Regions from separate parts of the Homo sapiens genome. Here region 1 is linked to region 2. Evidence: fine-mapped expression QTL. A gene starts in region 2. The other region holds a variant in brackets. All regions are shown on one strand. Distances are from middle to middle.

Region 1 (9,672 bases), 40 kb before region 2:
GCAGCCAGGGAGTGGTTACAGACCCAGTGCTGTGCTGCCTTCAGGTCTGACCCAGTGCCGTCAGTGATGTGGCCACAGGGGTGCTTGTGTCACTCCACCCCAGCTTTAGGTGGCTCAGGACAGAGAGACTCCATTTGTTTGGAAGAAAGTAAGGGAAGAAAACAAGAGCTTCTGCCGGGTAATCCAGAGAGTTCTCCTGGATCTTATTCAAGACCATCAAGGTGGTGCACAGTGTTACTGGGCTTGGGGTGCTCCCTAAGGCAGATAGAGCATAGATCACAACACCAAGTCCTTTCAGATACCTGGAAGCCTTCCAAAGGAGGGGTACAAACAAGCTCAGACAGTGAAGACTATAATAAATGTCTACCTCTTCAATGGCCAGACACTGAAGAACATCTACTAGGTTAGTGCAAAAGTAACTGTGGTCTTTACTAGGTTAGTACAAAAGTAACTGTGGTTAGTGCAAAAGTAACTGTGGTCTTTACTAGCATCAATACCATCCAGGAAAACAGGACCTCACCAAACGACCTAAATAAGGCACCAGGAAGCAATCATGGAGAAACGAGATATGTCACCTTCCCGACAAAGAATTCAAAATAGCTGAGGAAACTCAATGAATTTAAGATGACACAGAGAAGGAATTCAGCATTCTATCAGATCAATTTAACATAGAGATTGAAATAATTAAAAAGATTCAAGCAGAGACTCTGGAGCTCAAAAATGCAACTGGCATACTGAAGAATGCATCAGAGTCCTTTAATAACAGACCTGATCAAGAAGAAGGAAGAATTAATAAACTTGAAGACATGCTATTTGAAAATACACGGTCAGGGGAGACAAAAGAAAAAAGAATAAAAAAAAATGAAGCATGTCTACAGGGTCTAGAAAATAGCCTCAAATGGGCAAATCTAAGAGTTATTGGCCTTTAAGAGGAGGTACAGACAGGGGCAGAAAGTTTATTCAAAGGGATAATAACAGAGAACTTCCCAAACATGGAGAAATATATCAATATCCAAGTACCAGCAGGCTATAGAACACCAAGCAGATTTAATCCAAAGAAGACTACCTCAAGGCATTTAATAATCAAACTCCCAAAGATCAAGGATAAAGAAAGCATCCTAAAAGCAGCAAGACAAAATAAACAAATATCCTATAATGGAACTCCAATATGTCTGGTAGCAGACTTTTCAGTGGAAACCTTACAGACCAGGAGAGTGGCATGACATACTTAAAGTGCTGAAAGAAAAAAAGTTTTACCCTAGAATAGTATATCTGGTGAAAATATCCTTCAAACATGGAGGAAAAATAAACTTTCCCCGACAAAAGCTGAGGGATTTCATCAACACTAGACCTGTACTATAAGAAATGCTGAAGGGACTATTTCAGTCAGAAAGAAAAGGGTGTCAATAAGCAATAAGTAATCACTTTGAAGGTACAAAACTCACTGGTGATAGTAAGTACATAGAAAAACACAGAATATCATAACACTCCCACTGTGGTGTGTAATACCCTTATCCTAAGCAGAAAGACTAAACAATGAACCAATAAAAAATAATTTTTCAAGACATAGACAGTACAATTAACATATAAATAGAAACAACAAAAAGCTAAAAAGCAGGGGGACAAAGTTAAGGGGGACAAAGGCAGCTCCAGAATTTCTGCTTGGTGTTTTCTAATTTCGTTAAGGGGACTAATAAAAACTAGAGTTTTTTATTGTTGTCTTTTTGTGTGTTTATGCAAACAGTGCTAACTTGTGACCAGCTTAAAATAATGGGTTATAAGATAGTATCTGCAAGCCTCATGGTAGCCTCAAACCAGAAAACATACAATGGATACACAAAAAATAAAAAGTGAGAAACTAAATAATATCACCAGAGAAAATCACCTTCACTAAAGGAAGACAGGAAGGCAAGAAAGAAGGCCACAAAACAACCAGAAAACAAGTAATATGGCAGGAGTAAATCCTTACTTATAAATAATAATGAATGTAAATGGATTGAACTTTCCAATCAAAAGACATAGAGTGGCCGAATGGATGAAAAATCACTTTACCATGTAATGATCCCTCTAGTGTTTTCCCCTCCAAACATCTTTTGATTGTATTGTCAAAGTTGATCAAGTTATTGGTGTTACAAAAAAAATCCACTTGGTCACAGGGCTCCACTGAGGATAAATGAATTAAAGTATAGCATAAACAATACTTTAAAACAGTATCAATCTTGTCATTGCATTGTCCTATCAATATTCCATAGTTACAGATATGAAGAGGCAGAAACTCTTTGATGTGGACAATCAGCCTTCCAATTGAAACAAGGCTTTGTGTATCCTCTGCCTGAGAAGCTGCCCTTTCTCTGTTAGCTACCAGCTCTCTTAATAGATGTTATAAGAAATTAATTTTAAAAGAATATTGTATATTTCTTGTAGTGAAGAAACATTTATTCAAAATTCAGCCTTTTCTTTGGTTTCACTTTTCCTGTTAAATTAAAAACTTATATAACTACTTTGGATTAAAAAGTTATATATAATATTTATATATAATTTGTATAAATATATATTTATATAAAATATTATTTGTATAAATATTTATATAAATATTTGCATAAATATATATTTATATATTATTTGTATATACATTTATATAAATATTTGCATAAATATATTTATATAAAATATTATTTGCATATATTTATATAAAATATTTGCATATATATTTATATAAAATATTATTTGCATACATATTTATACAAAATATTATTTGCATATATTTATATAAAATATTATTTGCATGAACATATTTATATATTTGCATATATATTTATATAAATATTATCTGTATATATATTTATATATTATTTGTATATATATTTATATAAAATATTTATAAATATATAGTATGATTTTCATGTATGCATCTATGCATCCTCCCTGCTTCTTCCATTTAGTGAACTGTATTCACTAACTGTTAGTGACTGTTTCTTCTGGATGGTGAGATTTTTTTTCTTCACATTTTTATTTTTTTAGAGATGGGCCCTGGCTCTGTTGCCCAGGCTGGAGTGCAACGGTGCAATCCTAACTCACTGCAGCCTTGAACTCTTGGGCTCAAGTGGTCCTCCTGCCTCAGCCTCCTGAGTAGTTGGGACTACAGGCACATACCACTACACCTGGCTAATTTTCAAATTTTTTTTTTAGAGATGGGGTCTCACTACATTGCCCAGGCTGGTCACAAACTCCAGGCTTCAAGCGATCCTCCTGCTTCCCCAACCTCCCAAAGTGCTGGGATTACAAGCGTGAGCCACCATTCACTCTTTAAAGACTTTTCTGATGAGCTCGGTTGTGATATAAATAAGTGATTTTGGTATGGAATAATGAACAACATTTGGAAATTTCTATCATCCAGTGAACTGTTATTTTCCAAACAACAATGCAGATGTTAAGAATCACATCTGGGTAAAAGTTCCATTCAGGGTGCAAGACAGGTCAATGTGTCGTAATGCATCAGGACATGAAAGTTCATTGATATGATTTCAGATTCCACATGGCAGCTAACCTTTTCTTTTTCAAAATAACTTTTGTTTTGAAATAGTTGAAGACTCACAAGAAGTTGCAAAAATAGTATAGAGAGTTCTACATATCCTTCACCCACCTCCCCCCAATGATGGTATCTTACACAACCAGATAAATACCAGGAAAATGATGTGGGCACAATTCTATTAATTCGAATACAGCCCTCAGTAGCATTTCACCAGTTTTTATATGCACTCGTTTCTTTTCTTTTTGTCCAACTAACCTTCAGCAAACTAACATTTGTTGAGTTTTGGTGTTGGCATCAAAAAAGATTTGGTGTTGGTATCAAAAAAGAACATCCACAATAATCAGAAAAAGGACATTAAAATATGCCTCCTCTTTCCAACTACTGATCTGAGGCTGGATTTTCTTCATATATATATAATAATTATTATTTTTTGAGATGGAGTCTCACTCTGTCACCCAGGCTGGAGTGCAATGGCACAATCTTGTCTCACTGCAACCTCTGCCTCCCTGGTTCAAGCGATTCTTCCACCTCAGCCTCCCAAGTAGCTGGGATTACAGGCACCTGTCATCATGCCTGGCTAATTTTTGTATTTTTGTAGAGACAGGGTTTCACCATGTTGGCCAGGCTGGTCTTGAACTCCTGACCTCAGGTGATCTGCCCCCGCCTCAGCCTCCCAAAGTGCTGAGATTACAGGTGTGAGCCACTCTGCCCAGCCGATTTTCTTCTTATATTGTAACCAAACACACATATCACAACAGGTCAAACACAAAATCCAACTAGCTTCAATTAGGCCAGGCATTAAAGAGGTTTGTAAAAATGTAAAACATTATCACTTTTCTCATTAAACATTTATTTTTTCATTTTAAAGACAAGAGTCTCACTCTGTTGTCCTGGCTGGAGTACAGTGGTACAATCATGGCTCACTGCAGCCTTGAACTCGGCTGAAACAATACTCTTTCCTCAGCCACCTGAGTAGCTGGGACCACAGGTGTGTGCCATCACGCCCAGCTAATTTTTTGAAGTTTTTGGAGAGATGAGGGTCTCACTATGTTTCCCAGGCTGATCTCAAACACCTGGGCTCAAGTGATACCCCCACTCTGGCCTCCCAAAGTGCTGGGTCTCACTGAATTTTTTTGTTTTGGAAAATATAGTTACTTTTCCTTCAAGTGTTTCATTAATATGCAATAGATTCCTTATAAATGAATACTTTTTTATCTTAGTTTTCATCTCAAATGCCATAAACACTGATACATGTAACCCTCATAAACCAAAGCGCCTTGGGGCCCTCAGTGGTTTGTAGGATTCTAAGAGCTCTGTGCTCCCTAAGGTAATCTGGGTGCCTCCTCCCACAGAGCTCCTGGACTCTAACAAAGTCCAGAACCTTTTCATTCATTGATTTAAACACACATATTTGGGTCACACCATAGCTTATTCAGAGGAAATTAAAAGTTCAGAAGCTTCTAGAGTGATTGTCAATGGGGGAAAATATGATACAAACTGTATATTAAAGTGATCTTTTATTAAACTATTTACTGCTTAGTCTAAATTCAGGTAGAGCAGTCAAAGAAAGTTATCCATCAACTTTGTTGAATTCATATCTTTCATTTTAGAATAACAGCAGACTTTAAGCATGTATTATTTTTCCAGTGTTCAGCTTAGTCTAAGACTGTGTGAGTCTGGTTTGATCCATTGCCGTGAAGAATACACAGACAGCAGCTGTAATGAGCAGGTGCATTCCCTCGTAGAGAAGTTTTGGAGAAAATACACTCCATATAAATAAATGATAACGCAGAGATGTCACCAAAACGATGTACGTGAAAACTGGAATAGAACAAATCAGTGCGTAGCAGAAGCAAGCATGACTCAGTGCTGAACCACTGTTAATAAGAAAGAAAATGTGTATTAGCACATGCCACTTACATATCACACATGTAACAACACTTTTATTTTCAAAAAGACTCCAGTAGCTCTTGCCCTTGGAGTAGAGGGCACCGCGTTCCTTCTTCTGCACACACATCCAGTCACTATGGTGCTGGGACAGGTGCCTCTCCAGATGCGCTGGAGACGGGAAAACCCAACCTGCCCCCTTGGAGGCTGTGTTCTAGTGAAGGAGGCAGGAGAAACCAGATATGTAACATGTCAGGAAGAGACAAATTCATGAAGAAAAATGAAGCAAACAGAAGGATGGGTGAGGGCCACCATGTCCCCCC[C/A]CACACACACCTTGAGCTCTCCAGAAATGCTTCTGAAACTTGACTGTATGTAAAAATCACCTACAGTATGTGCTGGAAGTGCCACTCTGGAGCCCCCCCTACAGAAATCTGGATGTGGTTGGTCTGGGGTGGGCAGAGGTCTGAGTCTCCAGAAGGCACGGAGGTGCCCGAGGGGACATGAGCTGCAGCCCCAACTGCTCAGCCACTGTCTGCCACCGTCATCTGTAAAACAGCTCTGAAAAACGCACCCCCCAGACTTTGCAGTTATTTAAAAATTATATATGCATGTGCTACTATATCACATGCATTATAAAATACAAACGATGAATAGAAAATCACAAAAGGGTGAGATACAAATAAACATAAATACAAGTTCTGAGCTTTTCTCCCTGCTGTGGTGTGGAGGACTGTCTGGTCTGGGGACACTGGCCCAGCGGGGTTTGCTGAGCAAATTCTCGGAATAAGAGCCACCCCTCGAAGTATGTTAATGTACCCCCTAGTTTTGAAACCACCAACACACTACATAAATCTCTTCCTCAAAGCAACTTCCCTGAGTCTGTGATTATTGAAAAATGATAAATTACATTATTTGGGCACTTTCCATGCCTCATCCATGACCTCTGATCAAGTTCTGTTAGAAAGGGCCCGGAGGCAGCCCCCAGATCCTCAGTCCTGTCGGCACGTGTGTGTGTCTGGGTGTGTGGGTCCCGCTGCATGTCCTGTAAAGGGCCCCTCGGTCCTGTCAGCACGTGTGTGTGGGTGTGTGGGTCCCGCTGCATGTCCTGTAAAGGGCTCCTCAGTCCTGTCGGCACGTATGTGTGTCTGGGCCCCACATGCATGTCCTGTAAAGGGCTCCTCAGTCCTGTCAGCCCAGCAGCTCCACCAGGTATTACTTGAGGGTGTCCTGTAAGTGGCTCCTGCTTCAGTGCTCACTGCTCAGGAAAGGGTGTCAACAGCCACGAAGGGCCAAGGACGGGGCTGTCTCTGGCCCCTCCACAGCCTCACCTCAGCCCCCCACCGGCTCCCCATCTCAGGCCTTGGAGGGGCCCATCCTCCTCTTGGCTTCTCCAAACACTCCTTCACCTCAGCCCGCCATGTGCTCCAGTAAAATACTCAGACCCTGGGATCTCCCGGTGGGTGGCCGGTGCCTCTGGTCCTTTCACTGCTTTCCTTGCCAGGCCCTGGCTCCTTAGGCGGGTCCCCCAAACCCGTACCGCTGGTCACCACTTGGTATCCAGCCCCACAGGCCGGGGACCCCACAGGGAGGTGGACCCCAAGGTATCCTCAATACACCTCCTGGTGACAGCAACACCCAGGAAAAGGTGAACATACTGGGCAGGAAGATTCGTGGCTAAGTGGGCCGTGGCCCCATCCTACCCAGACAGCGCATGGGGAAGCTGTGGCTTAGACATGGCACCACCTTGACTTCAGTTTAACACTTTATAGCGTTACCCACCTAGAAGATGGCGGCTTGCTGTTCCCACCACTTTAGCAAAGAGCCATTTGCGCTGCAGGGGAGCAGGCAGCCCGGGGTGCCAGCCCCTGGAACAGAGGGTCGCCAACCACTCAAGGCCACGTTTTTGACCTTTTGGAAACATATTTTCTCTGTCTACAATTTAGACCTGGTTATAGTTTTCCTACTCTACTGAAACAAAATAGAAACCATGAGTAAAACTTGATGCTTTAAACTTTTAAAAGGGAAGAAGAAAACCCTATAAAATGAAGGAGAAATGCTTCTTGACTAGGAAAAATATCATGATACTCTCCAGTTGATCAAAATGCTTTCACCTCACTTAATATTTGTCTTTTTCCCTCCCAAACACAAACGTGCCTGGCTGTGTAAGAGATGAAAAGTGCCTGGTCCATCAAACCGCAATCTGCAAGCACCAGGGCAGCTGCAAGGCCGAAGACCAAACCTACAGAGAGAGGAGCCGGGCAAGTACTTCCAGCCCTCCGTCTCCAGCTGGCCACTGGGAGGTGTGCCGTCCACCCAACAGGTGCTTGATCACGCCGCGCACAGCTGTAGCACATCCGTTCTCCAGGGCAGAGGCAGATGCACCTCCACGCGCTCACGCCCGCTTGTCCTGACACCTGACCACACGACGTGCTGACAGCCCACCCCAGACGGCCGAGGACGGCGTCTCCTGTTTCTGTAAGGCCAGTGTGAGCACGCGGCTGGCCTCAAAACCAAGTCAGAGAAAGACGTCCCAGGGCAGCTGCTGAGACAGGCGGACGCCGAGCAGGGGTCTCGTGGCAGATGTTTGTTTTTATGCAGAATCGAAGTCTGGAAGGACGTCTCCACACAGCGCCGCCACAGTGGGTGTCTCCCAAGCTGGTCTGTTGGTGGCTTCCGCCCGCAGAGCCTCAGCTTTCTGCTGTGATGACAAGCTCAGCGGTGACTGTAAATTACGGGGGTCTGTCCACAGACTGCCCCAAAGTGGGCGTGTCAAGCGTCCACAGGCACCTGAAGAAAAGGCAGGTGGATCTCAGGCATTCCTGTCCCCGGGAAGCTTGCAGTCTGGCCAGGGAGCGATTCTCCCCTTGGAAAGGCTCCATGTCCGCTGTGGGAAGGCACGCGCCTATCACTGCTGAAGCAAGGCCAATGCTCCCCCGACCCCTTACGGAAACCTGTGAGCGACTGAGGGGTCCAGCCCGGGCCCGCCGAGTCTGCGGGGCACGAACACTTCCACCATGGTGGACGGTTCCTCTGGCTCCGAAGCACTCATGCTGTGAGAGCCTCAACACAGGACGTGAGCGGCGAGGGGCTCCTTTCAGGGTGGGAAAAGCTCAAAGGCAGGCACGGGTGTGCGTGCCTGGGTGCGTGGGCCCTGCCCGCATGTCCTGTAAAGGGCTCCTCAGTCCTGTCAGCCCGAGGACACCTCTGCGGAATGTCGACAGGGGGCTGGGCATCTGGGTCTGGAGGCAAGGCCAAGGGTCCCTGTGGCCTGGGTCTCAGGAGCTGGTCTGGGGAGGGGAGTGAGGCGGGGAGAGGACCTGCGTGGAGCTGAGAGGATGACCTGGTGAAGGAGGCTGTGGAGCAGAAGCCAGAGGGCGGAGCGGGACCACAGAAACGTGCAGATGCTCTGTGGAGTCGCCGGCAGCTCGGCAGGAGAAGCCTCCAAGTGTCCTGGGAGGGCTGGCACGGGGGCTCAGCAGTCAGCACCGCGAGAGCGACGGTTCAGTCATGGGAGGACGTAGGAGCCCTCCAGCCTCACTGCTCAGCGGAGAGGCCACAGCGCGCTCCCTGGGGCTCCCGGCAGGACTGGGGCCTCCGGTCACCACAGGACACACGCAAAGCTCTGGCTGACCTGCCCAAAGCCACCCAGAAAGTGCGGGAGGCTGGTCCAGTCAGTGTCCCAGACGCTCGCCTGCCCGGGAGGAGGCCGGGCCGCGGTGCGCGGTTTCAGCACACGCAGAAATGCATAGGCGCTGCGGGGATTCGTGACTGTGGCTGGCAGCAGGGACAAGCGTGGAGCACGGGGCACTCTAGTAGATGCCGCAGGGGCCACTAGCCCCTCCAAAGGCTGTGAACGCTTCCAAGTGTCCCCCATTGAGCTCCCAGCAACTCCCGTTTTACAGATGGGAAAACCAGGCACATGTGAGTCGAATAACTTTGCAGGCCCTGGGGTCTCTGCCAGACCAAGTTGGGAGGTACAGAATCACCCACCCCCGCCACACTCCACTCAGCACCTGACTCCGCCAGGCCAGGCACTGAGGCTGCTATGGTGAACAGAGCGGGTGAAGCCCCTGCCTCACAAAGCCTCCTTTCTTGGGGGAGCAAGAAACATACGATGAGGAAGCAGAGAGTGTGCGGCGGTGGGAACGCTGCAGAGAAGACGGGCGTGTGGATGGGGAGCTGCACCCTTGATCTGGGTTTCCCCGGGAGAACTTCTGCACAAAACCGCCAGGAGACGGGCATGTGGATGGGGG
Region 2 (9,672 bases):
TGTTGCCCCATATTTTCTGGGAGGGGTGGGAGGTGACTTGCCCTTATACCCTTCTGATAATAGAATTGAGTCAAGAATTTCCCTGAGTTTAGCATAGAACCTAAGAGGCCATGGTAATGGGTAACAGATCTCTGTGATTTAGAGTTATACAGCCACCCCAGCCAGCACTGGCATCCTGGAACCTGTGCAATGAAAATAAACGGGAACCTGGGTAACATCAGCAGGTGAAATAATTTTACCGAGACATCTTTAACGATAAATAAATGCAAGTATGAATTATCCAGACTTCTGGAATGCCACAGGGAGGAGCTCGGCAAAATCTCTCTCCCAGGAGCAATAATAAAACTGGATGAAACTGTCAAAAGCAACCATTTTAGTACTTTGGAAATTCACCAAAATTATAGAACAGATTGAGAAGTGCTTATTTAAGAAAAAACACGGAATCTCAGTAAGAACAGCAAGTGCCCATGGTGTTTCTACACAGGGCGGCTCCCACTTCCCTCCTTTCCAGCTCCACGCTGCAGCAGCCACTGAGAAGCCCCACACCCAGGGAGGTTATGAAAACACATCAGGGGTGCTGAAGCACAACCTCTGACCAATCAGTGGCTGACCACTAAGCTATGCGGAGCCAGGGCCAGCACTCAGGAAGACAGGCTTAAAGATAAAAACAAGAACTTAAAAACCAAAAGAACCAAAAGACCTAAGTCAAAACATCAGTTGCCGCACGCTCCCGGGGAGACAGACTGCAGGAACTCACTATACAAACAACCAAAATAACCCTAACAGCCACCAACATTCCTAGGGTGGGGCCAGAATTGAGCTGAGGTGGGGTTTGCCTGGATACACACATTTGTTAAATGCTGTACATGCAAAAATGTAATTGTATAAAAATTATATTTCAATAGTTATTTTTTAAAATGTGAACCTCACCCCAAAATTGTACTCCTTAAAAGGCAGCCAATTACTCTTGGTGAGTATCCTTTTGGACTCTTTTCTGTGTGTGTGTGTGTGTGTGTGTGTGTGTGTGTGTGTGTGTATAAAATCACAAATATATGAAGGTACACATTTTTTACCAAAATGGTAGCAAACTATACAAATTACTCTCAAACTTCTTCAATTAATAACACATCATGAACATCTTTACCTAGGGAAAACACAAGCATTTTATCTTTTTTCCAAACAGCTACAGAGCATTCCAGTGTGTAGCTGTACAATAACGTATTTAACCAAGACCATTTTACTGGGCATTTATTTTAAACAGCTTCCTATGGAAGTGCCACTTGAGCTGAGACCTGAAGGTTGAAAAGTTGTGGAGGTGAGGTGGGACTTTCCAGAGTAAAACACCTGCAAACTGCAAAGGCTCCAGGCAGAAAAGACAGCAGCACCCGGGAGGAAATGAGCTGCGTGTGACCTGTGTGGATGAAGGGCAAGGGAACACGGAAGGGGGCCTATATGAGGATGAAGAGGTAAACGGGAGTGAGGCCACGCAGAGCCTTGAGGGACGGGTGATGGGGTTCAGTGTTCAAACTGGGCAGAGCGTAAACTACTGAAGGGTTTTAAAGAGTAGTGTAGCAGGGTCTGATTTGTGTCCAGAAGTGATTTGGGCCAAGAAAAGGTGCTAGGGCATTTATAACAGTTCAGGCTGGAGCCCACAGCAGCCTGGACGACGGTGGTGGCAGTGGAGATACCAGCTCAGTCAACCTGTATTCACATCCACAGTATTTCAAGAGCACCTGTTCACCTCGTTTCTTGTGCGGGGTAGAGATCATCAATCTTTAAATTTTTACAATATGATAAACAAAAACTGGCATATGGGTTGTTTTGTTTGCCCTGCTCTGATTACTAGTCAAGAATCTCTGCATATGCTTATTGGCCATTCCGCTTTCTTCCTTGGTGGATTCCGTTATATACTCGGCCCAGTTTCCATAGGACTGTCCCTCCTTGATCCGAACCTCTTTATACATCATGGACTTAACATCTTGTATGCCATGTCCACTGTCAATAATTTCTTCAGTTTATCATGTTGTTGACTTTGTTTACAACATTTGACAATATAAAAGTTTTCTGTTTTCATCCCTTCTTTTGTGGCTTTTACAAGGCACCTCCCTCATCCTCACACTAGCTTGGGTTCCCACCGATATTTTTAAAGAGGGTAGGGACTACTTGGCATCCCCTCATCCCAGAAAGCGTGCAGACAGCGAGTGGGCTGCATTTACAGTCCTAAGAAATCTAAGGGAAAGCTCAGGTCTGTCAATCAATGCCAGCTATTATTATGACCAGAAAGTTCTTTAAGAAAGAAAAGGCATTCAAAAATGAGTTACATGACTTTAAAACAAAGCTGCTGCAGGGTCTTAGCAAGTGAAAGCACACTGGACATGTCAGGGTTGGCGTCTGGTTACAAATGTATCAACACCAGGAGATGCTCTGAGCCCTTTCTCAGACTGGAGGCAGGGCAGGGGACACTTTCCTCAACCAACACTGCCCAACCCCAACCTACCAAACTCCAGAGCTGTACAATCCTAACTCCAGTATGGGCTTTCTGTTCTAGCTCCTCCCTGATGGGGAAATAAGGAGCAAGAATCCTCAAAGGACTGAAAATGAAACAAAACACTAGCTCTGGGGTGAGGCTCCCCAGCAAAGGTGAAATAAAACCAATAAGCTGGAGACAGAGGCCCCAAGAACCACAGTGCCAACGGACTGGTCTGAATAGAACCTAGAACCTGCACAATCACTTATACATTTTCTCAAATCTGCCTGTTAAATCTTAAAAGAAAAGGAGAAAAGGGTTCCTTCCACACTTCTGATAGAGCAGATAAAGAAACCGGTGTTCCTGAAAATCAGGGGCTGGATGTCTTTCTTCCAGATTCCCACAGCTAGTTTCAGCAGGACGGCAAAAACTCTGAGTGCTGTGTTCAAAGGTGCCGGGCATGCCCCTCTCCCCTTCATTCTCTCTCACCTCCCTCTCCATTCCTTCCAGAGCAGTTGTCACTGTCTGAAACCATCTTCATTGATTCATATTTTACCGATTTTCTATCCCTCCAATTAGAAAGTAAGCTCCATGAGGACAATGCTGTCTTGTTCTTCACTGCCTCCCTCCTGTCTGGAACAGTGTGGCACACAGTAGATGCTCAATAAATATTGCTGAAGGAAGTCACATCACATTGAAATGCGGCAGAGAGAGTAAGAAATTCAAGGAAAAAGTCAGTGAGTGATATGGCACTGTGCTTCCTTCAGTCTCAGACTGCTTTCATCCAGTGAACATCTGCCAAGCATCTGCAAATGGGGCTGCCCCCAAGCCTTAAATCAATAAGTAGCTCCTTCTCACCAAATAATGTTTCACATGATCAACAACACAGCTAAGGCTCCGTCAGAGACTTTATGCCACGCTCACATGCGATACACTCACACACTTCAACCCCTCTGCTCCTTTCTGTCCCCACCTTTATTCATCCTTCCAGTCTCAGTTTAAATGCAATTTCCTCAGCCAGGCTTTCTCACCCACTAATCATCACATCCTGTTCTTTCTCATCATGCATTAACCACACTTTACAACTGCATGTTTTCATATGCTCCTTTGTTGAGTGGCTGTATATCTAAAGACTAAAAGCTACATGAAGGCAGAGATACTATTTTTTCCCCAATTGCATACCCATTGAAGTATCACCACATAGTCGTTGCTCAAAAGTTTTGAGCCAATCAATAAAGGCTTACTTTTTTCTTTACCCACGGTTCTTGGGAAATGCACTATGTACTTCAAAGCTGCTGTCAGTAGGCTGGACACCTGAAGGATATGGTGGAAACAGTGGTAATTGTTGAGGCCGGAACATACTGATTTGATCATTATGTATACTGGTGGATAATTTTGGAGAAGTCACATTTAACTTATCTGAGTTTGCTTTCCTATCTATAAAGTCTAGAGACTGAACTAGATTAACTCTAAAGGCTCCTTCTAAGATTGTAAATGACCCAGTGACGATTAAAGAAGAAAGCAGGTCACCAAGAATGGCATATCTTGGGGTAGGTTAGCCTGGATGATCTTGCTCTAAATCTTTTATATTTGCCATGAAGCATGAGCTTTGGCTACTTGACATGGGGCACAAATGATGGGTCTCAGTTCCATCCCGTGTGAGGCTCCTTCAACATTCTATTGCCCCAGCCAACTGACAGCACAAAATTTCCACTTTCTTAAAATTGCAACTCCAAGCGAAAGACTACAGAGACCCCCTCTAAATCTTCAAAACAGCCAAACCATGATTCATAAAACATTAAGGCAAACTTACCTTGATTCGAGGCATAGTAACTGTAGGTGGCTTTGCTTCAGCCACAAAACTGTGAGATGCTCCTTTTTCCACAAGGTAAGTTGTGTAGGGCATAAATTTCACACCCTTTGACCCAAACACAAAATCATCTCTCAAGGCATCTATCAGAACAATAACAACTTTACTGAAGAGAGGTGGTGGCAGCGTGGTCCAGTTAGAACTGGCTCCTAAGTGTTTGAAAGAAAAAAAAGGAAATTGAACTCTAAACTTTCCTTAGCATCAAGCACCTTCACAATCTAGCTTCTACCTACTTCTCCAGCACATACCCTGCGATATCTACATAACCCAACCCAAAAGGAGGCGACTTGTACTTGGTAGGTAGTGCTGGGGGGAAAGGACGGGGGTTAACAGGAGTAATCTTAGGGACCCACAGTAGCAAGCAGTGAATTATCCTCAGTATGGTGAAGAGTACTGGGGTAGGAGAATCCCTACGTAAGGGTCCTGGAATGGGACATTTAGGGAGCTTGACCTAAAACGCAGAGCTGCAGCTACGGGATGGCTGGGCGTTTACATACTGCGTTTACATGGTCAGCGGCTGGCGATGTGTGCAAGTGGTCCAGAACCAGGGCGCCTTTACTTGCTGTATATGGCTGGGTAGGTGAAGCCTAGGAAGAGGCCTAACGCAGAGAGGCCTTAGCCCCTAGGCAGGGAAAACATCTTGGAGGAATATAAGAGACCAAAACGCGAGGGGATCGGCAGGGGTCTTATCTGTTGTGTGCTAGGGGGCAAAAAGGGCGCCTATAACGGGGAGTGACCCAAAGGCTGCTCAGGAAAGGGGCGGGAGCTCTGGACGAGTAGAAGTGGAGAGGCTGGATCCCAGGTATGGACACAGCTTACTTTGTGGTGATCAGGAAGGAAGGTCGAAGTGGGGCCAGTAGAGGTGGTTGCCACAAAGTTGTAAGAATACAGAAAAGAGACGCTGGAGCGGTTAAAAAAAATTTCTGAGGTGGGGACCATAATGGAAGAGACCACCGGGGAGCGCCGAGAAGAAATCCGAGCAGCGAGGCTCAGAAAAAAGGTCTTCTAGGGGATGTGGGGTCAGGGGAGCGGAGACGCCGGGGAGGGGTCCGTACCAGCCGAGGGTTCGGGCGCTGGGGGCTCCGCTCCGTGTTCCGCTCTGGCAGAGGAACGAACGGGAGCCGGGAAGAATCCCCGAAGGAAGACCGCGATCCCTAGCACCTCGATCGCTACGCAACAGGTAGCGAAAGTCCCGGAGCCCAGCCGCATCGTGGACACGCTAGGCTGGATGCGGAACCGACCCCACCTGGAGCCTCGCCCTGCTGCAGCCGCGCTTCCGGCTCCAGGTAGCCGCCTCTAAGCAATAACGCCAGGCCTTATCGTCGCAGCGACAGTGGCGTCACGTCCGCCGGCGCGCCACAGCAGCGCGTCACTTCCGCCAGCCCGCCACAGCGGGGCGTCACCTCGGACATACGAACAGCGGGCGGTGTTCCCGGCTCCGTGGGGCCGTCTTCCCGGCGAGTCCGCGACGGTCGCCGCCCACGGCGAGGTACGAGGTTTTAAAAAGTTTTTAATTTGGAAGGCAGGGTGCAGTGGCTCACGCCTTTAATCCCAGTACTTTGGGAGGCCGAGGCGGGCGGATCACGAGGTCAGGAGATCGAGACTATCCTGGCCAACATGGTGAAACCCCGTCTCAACTAAAAATACAAAAAATTAGCGGGGCGTGATGGCGGGTGCCTGTCGTCCCAGCTACTCGGGAGGCCGAGGCAGGAGAATCGCTTGAACCTGGGAGGCGGAGGTTGCAGTGAGCCGAGATCGCGCCACTGCACTTCTGCCTGGCAACAGAGCGAGACTGCGTCTCAAAAAAAAAAAAAAAAAGAAAATTCAACCCAATACCTCAGACAACTGGTAAATATCTTAATGATTAACTTCGTTTTAAAGATGCCACATGAGTGAGATCATGAGGTATTTGTCTTTCTGTGTCTTATTTTGCTTACATGATATCCTCAGGTTTATCCGTGTTGTGGCAAATGATAGGGTTTCATTCTTTTATTAGAGCTGAATAGTACTCCATTGTGTATATATACCACATTTTCTTTTTTCTGAAAGGAAAATCTTGGGGCCCCAAAATTACTAAACTAAGGGAAAAGACAAGCTCGGAACTGCTCAGGACAAACCTGCCTCCCATTCTATTCAAAGTCATTCCTCTGCTCACTGAGATAAATGCATATTGATAGCCTCCTTTGGAGAGGCTTATCAGAAACCCAGAAACTGCAACCATTTGTCTGTCACCTACCTGTGACCTGGAAGCCCCCTCCCTGTTCCAAGTTGCCCCCGCCTTTCTGGACAGAACCAATGTCCTTCTTTTTTTTTTTTTTTTTTTTTTTTTCTTTTTCTTTTCAGATGAAATCTCACTCTGTCGCCCAGGCTGGAATGCAGTGGCGTGATCTCAGATCACTGCAACCTCTGCCTCCCGGGTTCAAGCAATTCTCCTGCCTCAGCCTCCTGAGTAGCTGGGATTACAGGTGCGTGCCACCACGCACGGCTAATTTTTGTATTTTTAGTTGAGACGGGGTTTCACCATGTTGGTCAGGCTGTTCTTGAACTCCTGACCTCGTGATCCGCCCGCCTCGGCCTCCCAGAGTGCTGGGATTTACAGGCATGAGCCACCGCGCCCGGCCTGTTTTTTTTTTGTTGGTTTGTTTTTGAGACGGAGTCTCGCTCTGTCGCCCAGCCTGGAGTGCAGTGGCACCATCTCCGCTCACTGCAAGCTCCGCCTCCCGGGTTCACGCCATTTTCCTACCGCAGCCTCCCGTGTAGCTGGGACTACAGGCGCCCGCCGCCACGCCCGTCAAATTTTTTTTTTTTTTTTGTATTTTTTAGTAGTGACGGGTTTCACCATGTTAGCCAGGATGGTCTCAATCTCCTGACCTCGTGATCCGCCCGCCTCTGTCTCCCAAAGAGCTGGGATTACAGGCGTGAGACACCGCGCCCTGTCCGGCCTGTTATTATACATATGATTGATATCTCGTGACTCCCTAAAATGAATACAACCAAGCTGTGCCCCGACCACCTTGGACCCACGTCGTCAGGATCTCCGGAGGCTGTGTCATGGGCGTCCTTAACTTTGGGAAATAAGCCTCCTGAAATGATTAAGACTTGTCATTTTTCTCGATTGACATTGATAAGCACTGAGAGATCCTCAGTGAAGGTAACCCGGCCTGCAGCAGTTCGCCTATTGATCCTCGGTATTGGCTTGGCACCTTATTGCCCAAACTGGTAGGATGATTGCTGAAATCTGGGACCTTGTTCCTCCAGGGATCCCTGATCTTCCAACGTTTTTCGGTGGGGGGTCTGAGGTTTATTTGCTGTTAAAAAACTCCTTTTTTGGGAGTTCCCACTCGCTTCATCAAGGAAGGCAAGCCTGCCTGCTTCTGCATCGACAGATAGCCGTCTTCAGCTTGAGCCCCATCACTAGGTAAGAAAATTGATTTGGAATTTTGTCTTGCAAATTCTTTTTAAATGACTAAAGATAACATTAACAACCAGCTGGTGTTTATTTCTGCTTACACTTAGAGCGTTCAGAAGTCATAGGCTGGGCGCGGTGGCTCACGCCTGTAATCCCAGCACTTTGGGAGGCCGAGGTGGGCGGATCACGAGGTCAGGAGATCGAGACCATCCTGGCTAACACGGTGAAACCCCATCTCTACTAAAAATACAAAAAATTAGCCGGGCGCGGTGGCGGGCACCTGTAGTCCCAGCTACTCAAAAGGCTGAGGCAGGAGAATGGCGTGAACCCGGGAGGCGGAGCCTGCAGTGAGCCGAGATCGCGCCACTGCACTCCAACCTGGGCGACAGCGAGACTCCGTCTCAAAAAAAAAAAAAAAAAAAAAAAAAGAAGTCATGTATTTTGTGTGATCATTGTTAGTTTTGCTTACCTGTTCTGTTGTTTGTTTCTGTCTTGTTGGGGTTTTTTTTGTGTGTTTTGGTCCTTTCCCTTATCGGATTTGACCAACTCCAAACCCTCTAGCTCATGAGTGTAGAATCTTCCCCTCTGAAGAAATAAGAGCACCTGCCTCCCCTCAGCTTTTCGGGGCATTCTCAGACAACTGAGAATCACGTGAGGGTGTCTGGGAGGAATGCTGCCTAAGACATGCAGTGGGTCTAAATAGGTTTCCCCCCCAGAAGAACATACTTAGAGTCTAATCTCAGCTGGCAGGTGCATATAAGGAGGTGACCCCTCCCGCACCTTGAGCCTCTGACACTGTGCCAGGTGGCCACCACACGGGTGAACCCAACCAGTTCGGGGGGTAACAGCCCTGAAAAGCTAGGTCTGCAAGCAGCACGTTTTGGGTCCGACACACATTCTGACTTGGCGAAATCCGAAGGGGAACTCTAAATTATGGGAACAAGGCCTCTGAAGCGGCTAAATACCCAACCGTCTACCCCCCACACACAAAAAAGGCGGTATGGTTGGGGGAGGAAAACGGCCAGCAAAAGGAAAAAACAGAGAAAAGATTTTTAAATTTTCACTGCTAAAGGGATTTTATTTACATAACAACGCCACCTTTTTGCCAGCCAGACCAAACCGAAAGAGCAATGGCTGTATTTCTGAAAGTAGCATTCTGTCCGGCCGAAATATGGTAATGAGATTTAAAAAGATTTTTTTAAAGGAGCTCAATGGTTAAAAGTCAGCTTAATTTGGCCATGCTCAGTGGCTCACGCCTGTAATCCCAGCATTTTGGGAGGCCGAGGTGGGCAGATCATGAGGTCAAGAGATCAAGACCATCCTGGCCAACATGGTGAAACCCCGTCTCCACTAAAAATACAAAAAATTAGCTGGGCGTGGTGGCGGGCACCTGTAATCCCAGTTACTTGGGGGGCTGAGGCAGGAGAATGGTATGAACCCGGGAGGTGGAGGTTGCAGTGAGCCGAGATCACACGTCACTGCACGCCAGCCTGGTAACAGAGTGAGATTCCGTCTCAAAAAAAAAAGAAGAAATGGCAAACTTCCTCTAAAACTTGCCACACAAAGATTATTTTTCCTTCTCTGTCTGCACCTGAGATCTCACACTCAATTTATCCATTGCTGAAATCTGTGGCAAAGCTACCCCTGATCGAGAGATTCCATCTCAAAAAAAAAAAAAAAGTCAATTTTAAAGGCTAACATCCAAGAATTGGGTGTGTATGTGTGCATGTTTATATTTAGAAGGTTTCATGTTTTTGGTTTTTGTTTTTCTCTCCTAGGACCTTGTCTTTTTTTTTTTTTTTTTGAGCAAAAGTTTTTTTTTTTGTTCAGTTGACTGAATTCTGTTTTCACCTGATTTTTTGACTAAAATAGTTACTGCAACAGGCTGCTCTTGAGTTTTTAAGGAAGTATGTAGTTTAGACACAC

Evidence for each region. PIP is the estimated chance that this variant, and not a neighbour inherited with it, causes the effect.
Region 1: its variant is fine-mapped to the expression of PIGG in whole blood (TOPMed, PIP above 0.99).

Annotation. Positions count from the first base shown.
Region 1 is chr4:534,890-544,561 of GRCh38, reverse strand. PIGG (phosphatidylinositol glycan anchor biosynthesis class G (EMM blood group)) reads right to left here. Exons shown (of 13, transcript NM_001127178.3): 13 at 4,362-5,409. The coding sequence ends at 5,193. Among named protein-coding and RNA genes, the nearest start is that of TMEM271, 37 kb to the left of the region's middle. The variant C/A (reference allele first, on the strand shown) is at 5,743.
Region 2 is chr4:495,210-504,881 of GRCh38, reverse strand. It overlaps PIGG (phosphatidylinositol glycan anchor biosynthesis class G (EMM blood group)), which reads right to left and starts at 5,672. Exons shown (of 13, transcript NM_001127178.3): 1 at 5,393-5,672; 2 at 4,281-4,486. The coding sequence starts at 5,546. ZNF721 (zinc finger protein 721) reads left to right here and starts at 5,726. Exons shown (of 3, transcript NM_133474.4): 1 at 5,726-5,826. RefSeq lists enhancers at 4,711-5,574, 5,532-6,011, 5,575-6,440.